Linked DNA regions of Homo sapiens: region 1 is linked to region 2. Evidence: fine-mapped expression QTL. A gene starts in region 2. The other region holds a variant in brackets. All regions are shown on one strand. Distances are between the middles of the regions. Region 1 overlaps ASB11 (ankyrin repeat and SOCS box containing 11). Region 2 holds the start of ASB11 (ankyrin repeat and SOCS box containing 11).

Region 1 (10,662 bases), 30 kb before region 2:
CCAGTGAAATTAATTTTAATAATATATTCTATTTAACCTAATATATTGAAAAGATTATTTCATTGTGTGATCAGCAAAAAAGTTTTTTCGTTTAATTTTATTTGGTATGTAATAACTGTATATATTTATGGGGTACAGAGTGATATTTTAATACCTAGAAGTAATCAAATCAGGGTGATTAGCATATCCATCACCTCAATCATTTATCATTTCTGCTATGAACATTCAAAATCTTCTCTTCTAGGTTTTCGAAAATACATAATAAATTATTGTTAACCACATTTACCCTACAGTGCTATGAAACACTAGAAATTATTTCTTCTATCCAATTATAATTTTGTATCCATTAACCAACATTGCCCTATTGTCCCCTCCTCACTACCCTTCCCAGCCTCTAATAAGCATAATTCTACTCTCTGTTTCTGTGAGCTCAATTTTTTTAGCTTCCACATGTAAGCAAGAACATATGGTGTTTATCTTTCTGTGCGTGACTTACTTAACATAATGTCCTCTAGGCTCATCCATGTTGCTGCAAATGACAGAATTTCCTTCTTTTTTAAGGCTGAATAGTATTTCATTTTGTATATATACCACATTTTCTTTATCCATTGATCTGTTGACAGACATTTAAGTTGATTTCATATCTTGCTTTTCTGAATAGAGCTACAATAAACATGGAGGTGCAACTACCTCTTCCATACATTGATTTCCTTTCTTTCTGATAAATATCCAGTAATGGGATTGCTGAATCATACTTGACAACAACAAAACAAATAATCTGATTTTAAAATGGGCAAAGGATCTGAATAGACATTTCTCCAAAAAAAAGACATACAAATGGCCAACAGGTATATGAAAGAATGCTCGACATCACTAATCATCAGGAAAATGCAAATCAAAACCACAATGAGGTATCATCTTACCCCAGTTAGAATGGCTATCCAAAAAATAGAAAATAACAAATGCTGGTGCAGATGTGGAGAAAAGGGAATTCTTATACACTATTGGTGGGAATGTAAATTACCACAACCACTATGGAAAACAGTATGGAAGTTTTCAAAAAATTAAAAATACAACATCAAAAGCTATTAATATTTCAAAACAAAAAAATAAAAAATAAAACAAAAAAAGAAGAGGCAGGTGGACCAGTTGAGGTCAGGAGTTTGAGACCAGCCTGGCCAACATGGTAAAACCCCATCTCTACTAAAAATACCGAAAATTAGCCGGGCATAGTGGCAGATGCCTGCAATCCCAGCTACTCCAGAGGCTGAGGCAGGAGAATCGCTTGAACCTGGGAGGCAGAGGTTGCAGTGAGCCGAGATCGTGCCATTGCACTCAAGCCTGGGTGACAAAAGCAAAACTTCGTCTCAAAAAAGAAAAGAAAAGAAAAAAGTTCATGTATTTCATATTCTTTTTTTTACTCAGTCATTAAAATGTAATATGTATTTTACACGTGCAACACATCTTAATTCAGCCTAGCCACAATTCCTGTGCTCATTAGCCATATGTGGCTAGTAGCTACCGTATTGAATAGCACAGGCTTAGAGGTTGCAATGAGCCAAGGTCATACCATTGCACTCGAGCCTGGATGACAAAAGTGAAACTCCGTCTAAAAAAGAAAACAAAACAAAGTTCATAATGTTTCATATTCTTTTTTTACTCAATCACTAAAATGTAATATGTATTTTACACTTACAACACATCTTAATTCAGCCTATCCACAATTCCTGTGCTCATTAGCCATATGTAGCTAGCAGCTACTGTATTGAATAGCACAGGCTTAGAGAAGGGTTTCTCACTCTTGGCACTATTGACATTTTGTACCTGATAATTCTTTTTTTTGTTTGTTTTTCTTTCTTTCTTTCTTTCTTTTTTTTTTTTTTGTTTTGAGACGGAGTCTCGCTCTGTCACCCAGGCTGGAGTGCAGTGGCGTGATCTTGGCTTACTGCAATCTCCGCCTCCCGGGTTCAAGTGATTCTCCTGCCTCAGCCTCCCAAGTAGCTGGGACTATAGGCACCTGCCACCACGCCTGGCTAACTTTTGTATTTTTAGTAGAGACAGGGTTTCACCATAGTGGCCAGGCGGTTCTCGAACTCCTGACAGTGCGATCTGCCTGCCTCGGCCTCCCAAAATGCTGGGATTACAGGCGTGAGCCACCATGCCCGGCCAGATCTGATAATTCTTTGTTGCTGGCTCCTGTGCACTGTAGGGTGATTAGCTGCATCCCTGATCTCCACCGTCTAGATGATAGTAGCAATTCTCCCCCAGTTGTTGCAACTAAACATGTCTGCAGACATTGACAAATGTCTCAGTGGGAGTGGGGCAAAATTGTCTCCAGTTGAGAGCCAAAGGTCTAGAAAAATTGGGGGAAAAAAAAACATGTGTGAAATGAGTCTTAGGATGATCTGAGAGGGAATTTTCATTTTAGAACTGAATACTGAACCATGACAGTAATACTTACAATAATTAAAAGTCTATCCAGTTCCCATGTTCTAAATTCACAAAAAAGAGAAAGAATAGAGGAAGAGGAGGGGTGACAGAAGGAGAGAGAAATGAGAAGAAGGAGAAGACAGAAAAGGAGAAGCCTCTTTTTATATACCTTTGTGCTTATTTTGGGCCCCTATCCACAGAAAAAAATATTGACCCAGCATTGAGCCCACTTTGGTGGCTGGCATCAGTATGTAATTATTTCAAAAACCCTGAGCATCTTGACTTTGAAAATAAGCCAGTGCTTGGGTTGCAACATGCCTCAGACAATGCCTGTGGGTTCAGGTTGTTGGGGACACCCAGTGTTCTCAATCCTAGAACTGCTTACTTCAAATAACAGCATTTAATATCAGAAGCAATAAGCAATAGATGCCAACCTCTGGGTGCACTGATCTCTTCCAAAGTCTCTCTTATCAACCAGGACCGCAGTAACTGGAAGCCTCAGTTAACTACAATGTTTCTGAAGTCCTTAACTTTATATATGTATATATATATAAAGTCTATATAAATATATATAACTTTATATATAAAGAACTTTGAAAACATATATATATAAGCTTTATACATATATTAAGGACTTTGAAAACATATATGAACTATATATATTAAGGACTTTGAAAACATTAAATATATGAGTGCATGTGTGTGTGTGTATATATATACGTATATATATATACGTATATGTATGTATATATATATACGTATATATATACAAAAAATCAAAATTATACCAGATTTATTCAAGGAAAGAAAGAAAAAAAGTGGGGAAGGGCTGAAGGAAGGAACTAAATCAAGAACATATCTTGGAATACCTAACATTTGTTATAATCTTATCCACCTGAATTTATATGTGTCTATACAATATTCAGAATGTTGACTTTTAGGTACAAGAAGATCCCGAATCATCAAAAAACAGCCTATTGTTTTCACTCTACTTCACAGTTCTTTTAAGTTTCTTAACAACAAGAGCTAAAAGCTAAATGGTTTCTACTTGCCCCTTGGTTAATGAGAACATTAAACTAACCAGGAGTTTCCACTCCTCAAGTGTTCTAGCTCATGGGGGATTTACTTCGACTGAGCTCATTTAAAGATACTAGGAGTCTAAGCTGTTGAGCTTCTACATTAGGTACTCTAGGTACAGCAGACAACAATCTGTGTCATTCCAAGTATCTTCCCAGGAACACTTA[G/C]GACTATTGGTATAGGAGGAATCGTTCGAGTGGCTCTGGCAGATGTAGCTTGTGGATGGCTTGATGACATGCTCGACCGAGACACTTCCGGACACACAGGCGGCAGAGCTGGGAAAGAGCAGGTGGGCCTGAGAGAGAAATAAAAATGGTGTTAACTTCATAGTGGTGGGAGGTGGGGTGGAAGGGGGAAATCAGAGAACTGGAAGAGGCGGAAATTTTCTAAAAGCAGAAGAGAAGCTGGATCTGTATAGGAACTATAGAATGAGGTAGCGGACACTAAATACAGACAGCAGATCCTGATTTGCCCCTCTGGAAGGGATGCATTTCTTTAAGTTAATCTTCCAATGGTACTTGGATTACCAATGTTGAAGAATGAAGCTAACCAGAGGCAAGTTAGGAATGAGGTGTGGGGTCTAAAGGGAATGCATCTCATTCATGTATTGAATGTGCCAATGAAAGTGATACACGGGGCCAGGCACGGTGGCTCACGCCTGTAATCCCAGCACTTTGGGAGGCCAAGGTGGGCGGATCACGAGGTCAGGAGATGGAGACCATCCTGGCTAACACGGTGAAACCCCGTGTCCACTAAAAATACAAAAAATTAGCCGGGTGTGGTGGCGGGTGCCTATAGTCCCAGCTACTCGGGAGGCTGAGGCAGGAGAATGGCGTGAACCCGGGAGGCGGAGCTTGCAGTGAGCCGAGATCGGGCCACTGCACTCCAGCCTGGGCGACAGAGCGAGACTCCGCCTCAAAAAAAAAAAAAAAAAAAGAAAGAAAGAAAGAAAGTAATACACTGGCCAAGGAGAAAATGCAAATGGAAGGACTGAACACGCAGGACTCCAAGACACAGCCACAGAACAGAGGGACAATACGGAAAGGGTGTCAGCGGGAAGTTCCACCTGCGTGGTGACAGAGGCAGTGTTAGGAGATGTGCCAGGGGCCAGATATTCAGCCCTCAAAGTACTCCTGGACCTACCGGCTCTAGCTGCCCATGAGGTGGTGCTGGCTGGGTCTCAACTTAAATCTGAAGAGGCCCTTTATTCTTGCAAGGATTCCAGCTCAATAGAGATCTGCAAGAAGGACTCAAGTCAGACCCTATTGTTCCCTGAAACTGAGTCTCATGGACTCTCAAGGAGTCTCACAGAATCATCATGCCCATGGCTTTGAATGGCTCTGAATCCTTAAGGAAAATCAGCTGATGAGAGTCCAGAATATGGTTGAATAGGATGAATGAGCTTTTGGCTGCAATACTAGTTGCACAGTCATTATTTCCTAACCTGACTGTTATCAGTAAAGATCTCTTCAAGAAAACCTAATTACTGGTCTACACAAAGTTTTCCTTTTCAAAAAAATCCACTGTAACAGCATCTCACACCCCATGAAAAATGATGGACTGCATATGCGAATAGCCAGGTTAACATTTGGCTTCACATTGCCAAGGAGCATCCATGAGATAGAAAGCTACCTGGAGGACCAAACAATCGATCTTAGTTAAAATCTTGGGAAGCAAGAATAGAAAACTTCTTTACCTGTTGTCCTACTTAACCTCCTCTGCAAAATGGTAATGTAGACAAATTGTCCAGTGCCCAGAGACACTGACAGGAGAGTGAACTCTGATGTAGTTGGTATTTAATCTTTCTTTTTTTTTTTTTTTTTTTTTGACAGAATCTCACTCGGTCGCCCAGGCTGAAATGCAGTGGTTCAATCTCAGCTCACTCCAACCTCTGCCTCCCGGGTTTAGGCAGTTCTCTGCCTCAGCCTCCCGGGTAGGTGGGATTACAGGCGGGTGCCACCAAACCCAGCTAATTTTTGTATTTTTAGTAGAGACGGGGTTTCACCATCTTAGCCAGGCTGGTCTTGAACTCCTGACCTCATGGTCTACCCGCCTGGGCCTCCCAAAGTGCTGGGATTACAGGTGTGAGCCACCGCGCCCAGCCAGTATTAATCTTTCTAGAGCAAGTGGCTATATTTATGAAGACAAAGGACAGAGGAGCTAGGCCCTGTCCAGGATATCCAGGTCTACAAATCCTAGTCCTAGAAACATTTTTGATGGAAGAAAATAGGAAATGTGAAAACTTCTATAAACTATAGTCTCTGCTAACAGTTGGAAAGTAGCTGGTATTTCCAAGCTCGGATCTGCTGAGGAAGATCATAATTCTTCTGGTGAAGATTCAAATAAAAGAACAATGATTAATGATCTAGACTATTGAAAATAATCCTGGCCAGGCGCGGTGGCTCACGCCTGAAATCCCTGCACTTTGGGAGGCTGAGGCGGGTGGATCACCTGAGGTCAGGAGTTCGAGACCAGCCTAGCCAACATGATGAAACCCCATCTCTACTAAAAATACAAAAAATTAGCTGGGCGTGGTGGCACGCGCCTGTAATCGCAGCTACTCAGGAGGCTGAAGCAGGAGAATTGCTTGAACCCGGGAGGCGGAGGTTGCAGTGAGCCGAGATCACGCCACTGCACTCCAGCCTGGGCAACAAGAGCAAAACTCCGTCTAAAATAATAATAATAATAATAACAATAATAATAATCTAGACCAGTGGTACGCAAAGTGTGGTCCTCAGACCAGCACCATCAACATCACGTGGGAGCCTGCTAGACATGCAGAGTCACAGGTCCCATCCTAGACCTCCTGAATGAGAATCTGTATTTTAAGGAAATCCTCAAGTGAACTGATATGCATGTTAAATCTTAAGAAGCACTGATTTAGAAAGACTATTCATAAAATGGTTAAAACCAAGCATTCTACTTGGAAGGTATATATGATGTAGTGGTTTCACAAAATGGAACTGGTGAGTGAAATAAGACCCTCCTCACTGAATGTTTCAAAAGATTCAGGGTTGGGGCCTTATGACATTAAGAGTGCACATTCTGATGGCCAGGTGCAGTGGCTCACACCTGTAATCCCAGCACTTTGGAAGGCTGAGGCGGGCGGATCACAATGTCAAGAGATCGAGACCATCCTGGCTAACATGGTGAAACCCCGTCTCTACTAAAAATACAAAAATTAGCTGGGTGTGGTGGTGCACGCCTGTAGTCCCAGCTACTCAGGAGGCTGAGGCAGAAAAATCGCTTGAACCCGGGAGGCAGAGGTTGCAGTGAGCCGAGATCGCACCACTGCACTCCAGCCTGGAGACAGAGTGAGACTCCATCTCAAAAAAAAAAAAAAAAAAAAAAGTGCACACTCTGGGGTCAGATGGCTCAGAATCCTACCTAATTCTATTATGTAGCTAGCTGTGTGACCTTGTCAATGCTTTTCTTTTCCCATTTGTACCTGGCATAGCAACCAGCTACTACCATATAAAGTTCCCACTGCTCTAAAGTTTTAAAAATTCAGTGAGCTTGATCTATGTTTCAAATTTAGCCCAGTGCCTGGCATACGTAGAGCTGAATAATTATAATTATCTTTAATATTCTTCAGGCACACAAATAATCAATATAGGCTCCGAAAATATTTTCTTACTGTATAGACATAAGAGGTTCTCTTCTGAATTGGTTCTCTTCTGAATTTCAGATGCTCGCCTTACCTCTTCTGGCATCAGTAGTTGCTCTTAATGCTCATGGTGGAAACGGGAATGAAGCAATGAAGAATGCAGACCCACCTACTCCCTGATCTGGAGAACAGGCAAACAACCTCACCATTTAGTCGGATTTCTGAAATACTCTGTGTCCTCCCCTACAGACTCTGACTCAAGTCTTTTGAATTTGCCATCAGATTGTCTCCCAATATTACAAAGCAGAGTTTTGGTTTGCTCAATCATACGCTTATGCCAGGACAGAAATGGAAATTCAAGATTTTCGGGGTATAAACAAGGTTTTCTGGTTTTCTTTTTTTTGAGACGGAGTCTCGCTCTGTCACCCAGGCTGGAATGCAGTGGTGTGATCTCTGCTCATCGCAACCTCCGCCTCCCAGGTTCAAGCGATTCTCCTGCCTCAGCCTCCCAAGTAGCTGGAACTACAGGCGCCAGCCACCACATCTGGCTAATTTCTGTATTTTTAGTAGAGACAGGATTTCACCATGCTGGCCAGGCTGGTCTCAAACTCCTGACCTTGTGATCCACCCGCCTCAGCCTCCCAAAGTGCTGGGATTACAGGCGTGAGCCACCACGCCCAGCCGGTTTTCTGGTTATTTTCTTGTTATATAAAATACAAAGCAACACTCTGGTTATAGGTAAATGCCCTTTGGTTGTTAGTGAATATACACAGCATATAAAATCCCAGAAGACAGGTCAGTGACGGCAGGGCCTATCACCTCCCACAATGCCACCTTCAATTAAAAAGAGAAAAGAAAAAGGAAAAAATGCTACAGATGAGACAGGAAGGGGAGAGAATGTGCTTATGGAAGAGGAATGGATACCCAGCCCTTGGTTACCTTCACGGAGCAAGAGTGCCTGCTCCACGCTGCTTTTTGGAGCCGCCAGATCAAGCGCACTTTTGCCCTGAGCATTTCTACGCTTCAGGTTAGCTCCATAGTCGGTTAGCAGGTGGATGACCTCCACATTGGACTGCCTCGCTGCAGCATGGAGTGGGGTGTCCAGCCACTGGCCATGGTCGACACTGGCTCCTTAACAAAACAGATGGCCACAATTCAACACTAAATGTAATGTAAAGCACAATGAGCTTCAAATATAGTCATTGCATATAAAGACATTTTAAGTACCATGACATACTTGACAAATGTTTGAAAATATGCAACTCAAGCCTAGAACCTCAGCAATGCCTACTAAGACTACTTGAAATTCTTTGGTGAGAAAAGTGAATTTAGATAGTTTTAGTCATTTTAAATACTTGCTTTCCCGTATAAACTGTGTGGCATACAAAATAAAGTATTTGAGGCTCCTGTTACATAGTTATTATGTTTTGGGACAAAAGATAAAGCTAAGTTTATTTAGTATTTATATTATTTGGGGCTCAAAAAATGATTTCTGAACTTACTATAGAGAATAGTAAATGATGGGAAATAAAAAAGACAAAAACTTCCTCAAGATAAAAATTCACAACTAAAGGTTTTTACTAAATCTCCACCTTTATGTCAGGGGCTAAGTTTGTTGAATCTTTAACCAAAGAATAGTTTCAAGATATTTCATTTTTCCGGCCGGGCACAGTGGCTCACACCTGTAATCCCAGCACTTTGGGAGACTGAGGAAGGTGGATCACCTGAGGTCAGGAGTTCGAGACCAGCCTGGCCAACATGGTAAAATCCTGTCTCTACTAAAAATACAATAAATTAGCCGGGTGTAGTGGTGTGCGTCTGTAATCCCAGCTACTCCGGCGGCTAGGGCAGGAGAATCGCTTAAACCCTGGAGGTGGAGGTTGCAGTGAGCTGAGGTCACGCCATTGCACTCCAACCTGGGCAATAAGAGCGAAACTTCATCTCAAAAAAAAAAAAGATATTTCATTTTTCCACGGACTCTTGGTTTCTGTATATGCCTTTTAGAATTGCTTTTAAAATGACTAGATACTGTAGCAGGATAGATATAAACTAGCCTGTAGCAAATGTCTGTTTTTACCGTCCAGCATCTTCCTGGCAAGCATACCTAGATTTCCCAAAGGTAAACCACCCTCTTGTTAGTTTCAGTTCTCGTGTTTCCAGTGAAGCCTAATAAATGCAGAGTAGGCTGAAATCTAGGCCTAAACTAATCAATATATTGTATTCCCTTGGCCCCCATGAGGGGTTCAAAGATGGGCATGTGACTTAAAAAGAGCCAATGCTCTTTCTTGCTGCGTATGGATAAGGAGGGCTGTAAGCCCAGGTATTGCTGGCAGCTATCTTGTGACAACCAGGGAGAACAATACCAGGTAAATGGAGTTAACATCAAAGGAAGCAGGACTGAGAAATACAGACACTCATTTCTCTAGAGAAGTTTTGTTTTTAGCATTCAAACATAAAATGCTAACCGAATATTTTTCAACCATGACAAGAACTTCATCTTTGAAGCTGTAGAAAATCAACAAAGTTAACAGGTTTCTTCATGAAAATAATTTTGGAAATTACCTAATTCTAGAAGTTTCTTCACACAGTCTACCCTCTGGTAGGTGCAGGCCACATATAGGGGAGTTCCGAGCTGAGGCACCTCATGGTCAATGTTAACATTATTTGCCAGCAGGATCTCCATGCACTCTCTGTGACCTGGTGGAACACAAGATACCCTCACTCAAGTAAGGGACATATTAAATATTAACAGAATTATAGGATTGCTTATCTGAAATGGGCTTTAGAAATAACCTAGGTTGGCCGGGTGTGGTGGCTCACGCCTGTAATCTCAGCTTTTTGGGAGGCTGAGACCGGCGGATTCCCTGAGGTCAGGAGTTCGAGACCAGCCTGGCCAACATGGTGAAACCCCATCTCTACTAAAAATACAAAAATTAGCTGGGCATGGTGGCACACACCCATAATCCCAGCTACTCGGGAAGCTGAGGCAGGAGAATCACTTGAACCGGGGAGGAGGAGGTTACAGTGAGCCGAGATAGCGCCACTGCACTCCAGCCTGGCCGACAAAGCGAGACTCTGTCTCAAAATAAATAAATAAATAAATTAATTAAATAACCTAGATCTCTTTTTGTAGCATAAAAACATTTTTGTGTTTGTTTTTGGAAATCTTAGGTAGAAACCACCAAAATAATACCAATAAAAAGAGGAGCATGCCCATGCTTCCCCACTCCAGCTCCTCTTTACAGCCCAAGTTAACTTTAACTGAACTAAGGGCTCCAAGTAGCACAGTTGAAATCACTCTCCAGAATGATGCCACCATTTTACAAATGGAAGTGACAAGACCCAGAGGGACAAACGACTAGGCCTATTATTACTCTGAAAAGCTAGTGCTCAAACCCAAGAGAACCCTGTCGCCTCTCCATTACAAATCTCTCATTCTCTTCTTTATCCATGCATGTGAGATTGGATATATGGCCTGCAACAGTACTTTGGTTAGTCTGAAAAATACCTATGAGAAAGAATAAAGAAGTCTTAAGTATAGAATATAT
Region 2 (10,785 bases):
GTGGATCACGAGGTCAGGAGATCGAGACCATCCTGGCTAACATGGTGAAACCCCATCTCTACTAAATGTACAAAAAAATTAGCCAGGCGTGGTGGCGGGCGCCTGTAGTCCCAGCTACCTGGGAGGCTGAGGCAGGAGAATGGTGTGAACCCGAGAGACGGAGCTCGCAGTGAGCCGAGATCGCGCCACTGCACTCCAGCCTGGGCGACAGAGCAAGACTCCGTCTCAAAAAAAAAAAAAAAAAAAAAAAAGTAGAAGTCCTTTTTGTTTCCCAACTGGAAACGAAGTAACTCTCAAGAAAGTAGCCTTTCTAGTTCCATCATTTCCCAGAACTTGCTTCAAAGGACCTTCAAGGGTTTTCACACAGAACCCTTTTCCAGAAACTGCCACAGTGGGGTCTCCTGCTTTTCTATCCTTGTTCCCAACAGAGTCTCTCACTCTTACCATTCTCATTTTGCAAACTGGAGCTAATTGTGAGAAATTGAGGATAAAAGTTACTTGGCAGCTTGGGAGTTTTTCCATTCCCTTCAGGAAGTATGCAACTGAGCTCTCCAAATAAATGAATGCTTAAGTAGGACTCAATCATTCTCTTCTAAGGCAATCTATTTTTAGTTTTTTGGCAGATCGCCCGTGTCACAGGGCTGCAAACACATTATGAAGATAGTTTACTCTACAAATATGTTTGCTTATTCCTGATGAGGTGTACGGAAAATGTTCAAGTGCTTTTTCATTTCCCCCTTTGAATTTTTCTCAGAATGTGATTTGTATCTCAGACTGTTTGAATGACAACTTCACAACAACTTCTAAAACCGTATATATTTCAATAACATTGGTTCAGATGGAGTACAGCTGTCTAAGTTCCAACCATTTGAGATAAAAAACGATTAAACTGTTTTTGTAATTTTTACTCTAATTTCAACAAGTATTTCAGATTACTGTTTTTTTATTTAAAAAGATGACCCAACAGCCGGGCGCGGTGGCTTATGCCTGTAATCCCAGCACTTTGGGAGGCCAAGGCAGGTGGATAACCTAAGGTCAGGAGTTCGAGACCAGCCTGGCCAACATGGTGAAACCCTGTCTCTACTAAAAATACAAAAATTAGCCAGTGTGGTGGCGGGCGCCTGTACTCCCAGCTACTCAGCAGGCTGAGGCAGGAGAATCACTTGAACCCAGGAGGCAGAGGTTGCAGTGAGCCGAGATCACATCACTGCACTCCAGCTTGGGCAATAAGAGCGAAACTCCAACTCAAAAAATAAAAAATAAAATCATATGAAACAAATCTTCTGTAGCATTTATTAAGGAAAAGAAAATTCATAAGGAATTTTAATTTTGAACCAAAATACAGGCAAGAGCCTAGCAGAATTAATGGTATTTTATGTGAAACAAAGGTAACTGGGAAAATAGAATGTATTTCCTGAGATATCTAAAATATTGTAATAAAACTGAGTTAAAATAAATATTCTCCAGAATGTCCAGTCCTAGAGAGGAGATGAGACACAGTGAGCTGTGTTAGACACAATTAACTATGTTGCAGTGTATTAGAAAGAAGGCTCCTTTGAACTCTTAAGGGCGGGAGAGCTGAGCTAAAGGAGACTGGTGGAAGGTAGAGCCTCTGCCAAGGACTGGTTGTCCCAACCTAGGAAAAGCCAGCAGGCACCTGATATGCAACTTAGAGGATGGTTAGGCCAATGTTTGTGGAGACAACCAGCAAAACTAAATAAGAGCAGAAGGCTAGGTCGAGGTTTGGGCAAGAATGAAACTAAGGCGATCCTATTGGAATGGAAAAGACAGGAAAAAGGATTCAGAATGCTGAGTTAGGCAGAGGCATAGCTGTCAAATCATGGTCAGTCCATCAACAAGTGATTTTAAGCATAAAACTTAGAATAGGACTGATCTTTTAGACACAGCTTAAAATAGCCCTTTTTTTTTTTGAAAGAGGGCACTACAGTTCTACAACGTCTTATCTGCACTTGTAAAGTTCCTCCAATTCTGAAAACCAAGCTTTACCCCAAATTTGATGCAAACTTGTTTAGCAGCAAAGCATGGCCAGGACTTAGGTTAAGCAATTTATTATTTGTTTTATATTTCCATCTAGTGTGAATACCTATATGTTCACTATAGAAAGATCAAAATGTTTGACTGTGGGAGGCAGCTCCAGGCCCCACCAGAAGTGCTGTGCAATAGACAGTATGCACATTGTATGATCTTTCTAACATTCAAAAGCTATTGAATTCTGAAACATGGCTGGCTGAAGGGTTATGAATAACAGATGATCAATCTGTATCTACACTATATTTTCTTTCTTGATGACCAAGTCACAGTACTAAACATAGCTTAATACAAATTAGCAAAGCTTGAAAAATCATACAATACATCTCTCCTGAGAAAGTGCCTGCAGAAATATCTATGGACTGAAGGTGGGATCCAGTGATCCATCTGGTGCTCTAGGCATAACACCAAAGGCCAAGGACAATGTATTAAACTTTAAAAAAGAAAAAAAAATATACATATAATAGACAAAATAAACAAAGAAGCTTAAAAACCAAAACTAATAACAGTCAACCATGGCTTAATTCAACTATGATGAGTGATCAGCAAATGTAATAGTTTAAGCCACAAAGACATATAAAATAATGTATTCCAGACTATGAAATCCACCCCCACCCGCCCACTGCACAAAAAAAAAAAAAAAAAAACAACTTTCCAAAAGGTTTTACAGCACAAAGAATGATATTTAATGAGGCATGTGGTGTTAAATGCAGCTTCCAAAAAAAAAAAAAAAAAAGAGTGCTCTGGACCTACAAAAGTCTAACCTGTGTGCTGGCTAGGTTTTTCCTGCCCTTCCTTGCTTTTGACATTGCTGACAATAGTTTACAGGAATAGCATATGCTAGCAGACTCAAGAAACTTAACCTTGGGCTGGGACTTTTGTAAGTCAATTAGCTAATTTACTGATTAAATGTCATATATTTTCCCAACAAACATTTGTCTGACCAGTGCAAAAGTGACCAAAAGCAAAGGTGATTTCTGGTTTGAGTTTGATTTCTGGTTTGAGTTTAACACTTCCACAAAATTTTGTTCTTGATTTTTAATACACCTAAATATATTGTTATGGGATAATTTAGGAATTAGAGAGACTGAGGGGTTGAGGAGGATTTATTGTTTAGGTGTATTGGCCTAGTTGCATTAATATTTAAAGGACTGGGTTTTGAATAAAGAGTTGTTATTTTTTAAGTATTTTGTGGGGCGGGGGAAGATTTGTAATAATATAGTATCTGACTGTTAACAGTGGTATCAAAAGAAAAACACAGAACCATGTGAAAAATACTGGTCCAGGCATGTTACTGCCTACATTCTTATAGAAAGACTTATTTAGCGGCCAGGCACAGGTGCTCACACCTATAATCCCAGCACTTTGGGAGGCCAAGGTGGGCAGATCACTTGAGGTCAGGAGTTCGAGACCAGCCTGGCCAACATAGCGAAACCCCATCTCTACTAAAAATACAAAAATTAGCCGGGCGTGGTGGCGTGCGCCTATAATCCCAGCTACTCAGGAGGCTGAGGCACGAGAATTGCTTGAACCCCAGAGGAGGAGGTTGCACTGAGCTAAGATCGTGCCACTGAACTCCAGCCTGGGTGACAGAGCAAGAATCCATCTCAAAACAAACAAAAAAACAGAAAGTCTTATTTACCAAATCTTGGTAAATTTGGGGGTGGGGGGATTCGTGTATATGTATACACACACACACACACATATACATATATATATGAAAGAAATAAAACTGGGAAATTAACATGCACCATTCCCTGCCTCTTTAACAATAATTGAAAAATGTTTTTGACCTTAGAATACTATGCTACTTGCAAATTAACCTATTTTAAGAGATTGAACAAGTAAAGATATTTGCACTACAGAATGAACGAACTGTATTTAAGAGATTTGTATTCCAGCTCCAGATTAAATTCAAACCATGCTTACATGGGTTTTGACTATAAGGAGGTTTTATACCTTTTTTAAGAGTGCACTTGAGGCCGGGCGCGGTGGCTCACGCCTGTAATCCCAGCACTTTGCGAGGCCGAGGCGGGCGGATCATGAGGTCAGGAGTTCAAGACCAGCCTGGCCAACATGGTGAAACCCTGTCTCTACTAAAAATACAAAAAAATTAGCTGGGCATGGTGGCGTGTGCCTGTAATCCCAGCTACTCAGGAGGCTAAGACAGGAGAATTGCTTCAACCGGGACCTGGGAGGCGGAGGTTGCAGTGAGCCGAGATGGTGCCACTGCACTCCAGCCTAGGCTACAGAGCGAGACTCCATCTCAAAAAAAAAAAAAAAAAAAAAGAGTGCACTTAATTAAAGACCACAAAGACAGAAATAATGCGCAGGTGCAACAGGAGAAAACATTTGTAACATGTTCTTGCCAATATTGACTTTGTTGGACTTCATCTAATTTAGACCAGAAGAATGATTTATCTATGAGAACACCAAAACTATTATTGAAAATTTTAGAAAGCCCTTGCCCAAATTGACAAATTAAATTAGAAGATAACTTTTCAGATCATGCTTAACTTGAAACTTATCAGAAGCATTACTTTTTTTTTTTTTTTTTGTAACTAGTCAAAGTAACATACCTCCCTGAAATGTGTGACAAATATAATCCCCAAAAGAAATCTCTTTCCATGGTCCGGACCTTCTGATACGTTCTGAAACTTCACAATTCTTCTCATTTTCCCCAGTTAATTGAAGCATTCTGATGCTTCGTCCTTGGAGGTCTTATTTCTTTAGATAAGACTGCTGTTGTCTAGTGTCTTCTGAGTTGTCTAGTGTATTGGAATCACATAAGACTATTTTGAAAGAGAATCCTGGATGCAAATTGAAATGGATACTAGATAAAGAATGATGTAATCCTGGAACCCCTGCAAACACTAAAAATACACGGGGAAATTCTGAACTCTGTTTATGAATAAATACTCCTCTATTAAGTGACAATCCCAGGAGTGACAGGGATATCTGACTCATTTACTTTTGTAGCATCTCACCACAATTAAAGTAAATCATTTCTTGAAAGAAATGGACACTATTCTCTACAAAGCATGAGAATTTAAAATGTTTTGCCCAAATCTTGGCATTTCATGTTAGAATAAACTTTGTTTGGAGTGCTTTGCATGCTACCATATAAAATGGGTTTAGTGAAGAGCTTTTCCTGACAGTGACAAGTGGTTAATCAATTCCAGTTGCAAATGACAGCAAAAAAAATACACATAGCTTGCCACGTTTGCTGCTTTAATTATAATTTATTAGTCATTCTATTTCCTGAGAGAATTTAGTCTGGTTAGAATGCCCTTCATTGTTAAAGTTTGCTTTAAAATATTAAAGAAAATAATTATATACAAGTAATTACTTTGGCTAGTAGAAATGAAGTTTCTCAAAATACTCTTAGTAAGCCACTACCTATTTACTTCTTAAATAACAACTGCTACAAGATCTACGAACTTGCAAAAAATAAAGCTGAAAATCCTCCACAAATTGATGCAGCCAACAGCATTTGCTACTTTAAGTGACAATTTTTCAAACTACCCACTTAAAATCAAAGTATAAATATAATCTGCCTTCCAGAAATACTAGTCATATGAATTATCTAGGAGGGATTTTCTTTAAATATTAGGAACAAATTCATGTACTTTTACCTGAAATTCCACCATAGATCTCTTCTGCTATCCTAGCCGCTTCTTTTCTATTTCCTTTGACGATATAGAAATGGGTTAGGAGAGCCAAAAAAACTTTAATTAAAAGCTTAAAGAAAAAAAACGTAGCAAACATTGTAATAAAAATGTTTTTAAAGCCATAGAAAACAGGACCATCTTCCATTTTGGCTTATGCTCTGTATAGGGTCCTAGGACTGTAAAATTTCACTGAGTTATAATTGGTATCATATGACATCTATTTTAAACCTTCTAGCACTCAGTGCTCCTGTTACCGAGATCTCTGTAGGTTCTAATCTAACTGATTTGGCGACTGCATGTGCTGACTCCACAGCAGTGTTAAATAAACTAAAGAAACTTCCTTCTAACCAGAAACATCCAATAGTTCTAGAACTACATAACTCAGTACTATCTAACAGATAAGATTCATATCCAAACATTTTATATTCCTAAACCCCTATTTTTCCTATTTTATGTTAGAAAGCAGGGTTGGAAAGATAGAAACTTCTTGGCTTCCACAGAAACAAAGCAAGTTATTTGACATACAAAAGAAGTGCAAATATGCTGTATGTTCTAAGTGGGAAATACTACTCCCTGGAGCATTTCATTTTCTCTTAATTCTGAAGTTTATAGAGGATTAAATCCAAATCTAAAATATGACCAGTTAAAAAAGACCATTTACCTGGCCGGGCGCGGTGGTTGACTCCTGTAATCCCAGCACTTTGGGAGGCTGAAGCAGGCGGATCACCTGAGGTCAGGAGTTTGCGACCAGCCTGGCCAACATGGCGAAACCCCCGTCTCTACTAAAAGTACAAAAATTAGCTGGGCGTGGTGGCAGGTGCCTGTAATCCCAGCTACTCAGGAGGCTGAGGCAGGAGAATTGCTTGAACCTGGGAGGCGGAGGTTGCAGTGAGCCGAGATCGCGCCACTGCACTCCAGCCTGGGTGACAAGAGCAAGATTCTGTCTCAAAAAAAAAAAAAAAAAAGACAATTTACCCTAAAGCTGTATGTATGTATGTATGCATGTATGCACGTATGTATGTATTTAGTTTTAAGATGGAGTCTTACTCTGTTGCCCAGGCTGGAGTGCAATGGTGCGATCGCGGCTCACTGCAACCTCTGCCTCCTGGGTTCAAGCGATTCTCCTGCCTCAGCCTCCCAAGAAGCTGGGATTACAGGCATGCGTCACCACGCCTGGATAATTTTCGTATTTTTAGTAGAGACGAGGTTTCGCCATGTTGGCCAGGCTGGTCTCGAACCCCTGACCTCAGGTGATCCACCCACTTTGGCCTCCCAAAGTGCTAGGATTACAGGTGTGAGCCACTGCACCCGGCCAAGCCTGTATTTAATAAAAGGCCTATCTTGGATGCCTCTCCAAGTAAGTGTCACACTAGAAGCATCAGACTACTCGCCATGGTAGTTCCATCTGGGACAAGGTCCCATGGCAAGGTTCCCTCCTGATCATTCACTTGCATTTCAAGCATTGGTAAAGGTGGTGCCCATTTCTGAAAAATGTGGGCTATCCTTGATCATGGAAGAGTCATAGTGAAATGGACAAAAGAGATGCCCTAGGTTCTGGATGAAGTACCCAAATATTTCATGAATCAACCTTCTCTAGTTGGGCAATTTTCTCTTATCAGCTGGCCAACACAAGTGAAATGGGTTTATTTTTAGTTTTCCTCATCACTCTAGGTCTCTGCCTTCATTCTTGGCTATGTTCGATTTTGTAAATTTTAAAAATCAATTGAAAAGACAAGCCAAAATATAGTTATACAAGTGGCCTAATAAATCTTAACAAATGATTTATGCAAAAATATGGGAATTTCTCCTAGCATGCAGGCAAATTAGAATGACTGCCTGGTTAAGAACTGTTTCACTACATTAAAAAGCTGACATGTAAGAATACAATCTTGAGTCACAACATACAGCTCATCGATTTCAGTGTATCAGAGCACTATAAAGACCTTGAGTCGTCTTAACTCTCAAGGAACAGACATTAACATAAGATTTACTTTACTGAGCTTATATTACCTGGTAGAATGCCAGTGTATGAAAATACATGAATACAACTCTTTTAGTCCTTTTCATTTATCTTTCTTCAATTATACTCTAAGTAGGCAATCATTTAGTCATGTCAGACCAGTGATGTACATTGTTCTATAACATTATTCAATCTTGTTTTGGTCTTTTCATTTAAAACATGGCTGTCCTATGTTTTACACGCCAAAAAAGTTGGCCATGAAAAGCTCAACTTTATTAAGGTTCAAATGGGTGTCTATACTATTTCTGAGAGGCCATCTTTTTTTTTTTTTTTTTTTTTTGAGACGGAGTCTCACTCTGACTCCTAGGCTGGAGTGCAGTGGCGCAATCTCGGCTCACTGCAAGCTCCGCCTCCCGGGTTCACGCCATTCTCCTGCCTCAGCCTCCCAAGTAGCTGGGACTACAGGTGCTCGCCACCACGCCCAGCTAATTTTTTGTATTTTTAGTAGACACGGGGTTTCACCGTGTTAGCCGGGATGGTCTCGATATCCTGACCTCGTGATCCGCCCACCTCGGCCTCCCAAAGTGCTGGGATTACAGGCGTGAGCCACCATGCCCGGCAAGACCATCTTTACTATATTTGAACATTACATTTGTGATGGGCATAAAAGGCTACTGATACATAAGGACAGTTGATTCATGCTATCTTTCACAGATGAAATCATCAACAGCACCAAGGTTTCTCAGCCTCAGCACTATTGACATTTTGGGACAGATACATGTGTTGTGGGGGATGGCCCAGAGCATCGCGGAATGCTTAGCAGCAACCCTGACCTCTACTCACTTGATGCCAATGCCCCACCCCACCTAGTAGTAACAACCAGACATTGCCAGATGTCCCCTGGGAAACAAAACTGTCCCCCCAAGCCCTAGTTGAGAACCACTGAGCCATACCCAAATAGAAATGATAAAGGATAAAAATCAGTTCCCCCAAGTACTAAAGGCTACAAATCAAATTCTACATAGAACTTTTTCATAATTTTATATTAAAAAATCCAGCCACAGGATGATACAATTCAACATCTAGCCACATCCATTTGGGAATGCAGAGATGGATAAAGAGGCTTTAAAATTACTTCACAAAAGTAAACACAGACCTATACTACCCTGACTTTGCCAAAAATAAGTTTTGGCATAAGATAAATCAAAACATAAACATAGGTGACTGCTTTCCACTGCTTCCCACAAAAGGAGTGGGAGAAACTAAATCAGGGATGTCCAATCTTTTGGCTTCCCTGGGCCACGCTGGAAGATTTGTCTTGGGCCACACATAAAATACACTAACAGCAGATCATGAGATCAGGAGTTCGAGATCAGCCCGGCCAAAATGGTGAAACCCCATCTCTACTAAAAAATACTAAAGTTAGCCAGTGTGGTGGTGGGCGCCCGTAATCCCAGCTACTCAGGAGGTTGAGGCGGGAGAATCATTTGAACCCGGGAGGCGGAGGTTGCAGTGAGCCAAGATCGTGCCACTGCACTCCAGCCTGGGCAACAAGAGCGAAACTCCGTCTCAAAAATATATAAATAAATAAATGAAAATACCCTAATAGCTGATGAGCTAAAAAAAAAAGAAAGAAAGAAAGAAAGAAAATCACAAGTCTCATAATGTTTTAAGAAAGTTTACAAATTTGTGTTGGGCAAAGTAGAAAGCATAATTATGTAGCTCACATACACAGTATAGTTTGTAGATATTTTCCTTGTCTCACGTGATAATGCTAGGGCAATGAAAAACAAGGGCTTATTTGGGTAAGGAAACAAAGGCACAATTGAACTCGCTATTCCATGAGTGAGAGAGAGAAGATATTCTAGAAACAAAAAATGACAGAGTAATTCATCGCCCAAAGGGTATTTCTTGTTTTACTAATAGACCAAGCAACACATCCAAATTGCACTGAAAAAGAATGTGTCGGGGGCAGGGATAGCCTGTTCCACTAGTAAATAATAGTCTGTTCATAAAATAAGACAAACTCAGAAAATTATCAAAATGTCATTCTGGTCTTTATTTTTGGACATGTAGCATGTTTTAACAAATCAGTTTTTCATAGGCAACCTTTTGAAACATCAAAAGAAATACAATATATTTTTCACAAATTTCTCATCACTGTAAATTCACTTTAAAATCAACTAAGTAGCAGGGTAGAGCAATGTGTTTCCATATACCGACCAGTGCAAACTGACAGTTACAATTAAGGTATCCAGAAAGGTTGAAAATTAAGATTTACGTGAAACAAATTTACTTCCATTTGTTAAAAAAAAGAAAAATAATAATTTGCAAATCACATGTTTTACAGGCAAAGGCAACTAACTTTAGATCTTATTTCCATCTCAAATAAATGACAGTTTAAGAATTAAATGACAATTTAAAAAAATTAAGCAAAAATATAAGGAAAAAATGGTGGCATGCCTCTAAAACCTGTTGAATAGAATAATGGCCAAATATTACAGTTTCTCACTTTCCTATGAATACTGGCACTGTTTATTTCATGTTTATATGTGAGTTTCTATGCATAAAAATCCCAGTAAGACTGAATAGTTTAAAGATCAGTCCATTTTTCTCCAACAAAACCCCTAACTTCTAGATTTTAAAAATTGCACTCTTGCTTTTGCATTTTAGTACAAACAAAACACAAATATATTTCTTTTATATCAGTGCAACCAGTTAATAGGCATGTTATTTTTTAAAAAGTAATAAATTTTGTGAATGTTGTCATTTTTAAAAATCCTATACAGAATCACAACACTGTCAGAATCTATGTAGTGCACCCACAAGTGCCTTATTGTTTTGAATTCACAGTCCTTTTCTCACAAAAACCTTAAGAGTTCAAAGAATTCATAATACACACCATGTGGATAATTTGGGGTTAAAAAACCCATGGCTCTGGGCAACAACAATGACAGTTAATAACATCCACCCACAAAGACTGTTTCTAAAATTTTCAACTTAGTTTGCTATAAATAAACCATTCTGAAGTAAAGCCTTTTGCACACTGACAATACTTATCAGACATCAGCGAGGCCACAGTGAAGGGGAGTGACTTACATTAAA

Evidence for each region.
Region 1: its variant is fine-mapped to the expression of ASB11 in skeletal muscle (GTEx, PIP above 0.99). The same link has a PIP of 0.9 or more in atrial appendage.

The regions. Positions count from the first base shown.
Region 1 is chrX:15,279,828-15,290,489 of GRCh38, forward strand. ASB11 (ankyrin repeat and SOCS box containing 11) reads right to left here. Exons shown (of 7, transcript NM_080873.3): 5 at 9,677-9,811; 6 at 8,054-8,245; 7 at 1,870-3,802. The coding sequence ends at 3,678. Among named protein-coding and RNA genes, the nearest start is that of ASB9, 15 kb to the left of the region's middle. The variant G/C (reference allele first, on the strand shown) is at 3,675.
Region 2 is chrX:15,309,741-15,320,525 of GRCh38, forward strand. ASB11 (ankyrin repeat and SOCS box containing 11) reads right to left here and starts at 5,900. Exons shown (of 7, transcript NM_080873.3): 1 at 5,685-5,900. The coding sequence starts at 5,865. It overlaps PIGA (phosphatidylinositol glycan anchor biosynthesis class A), which reads right to left. Exons shown (of 6, transcript NM_002641.4): 6 at 9,716-10,785.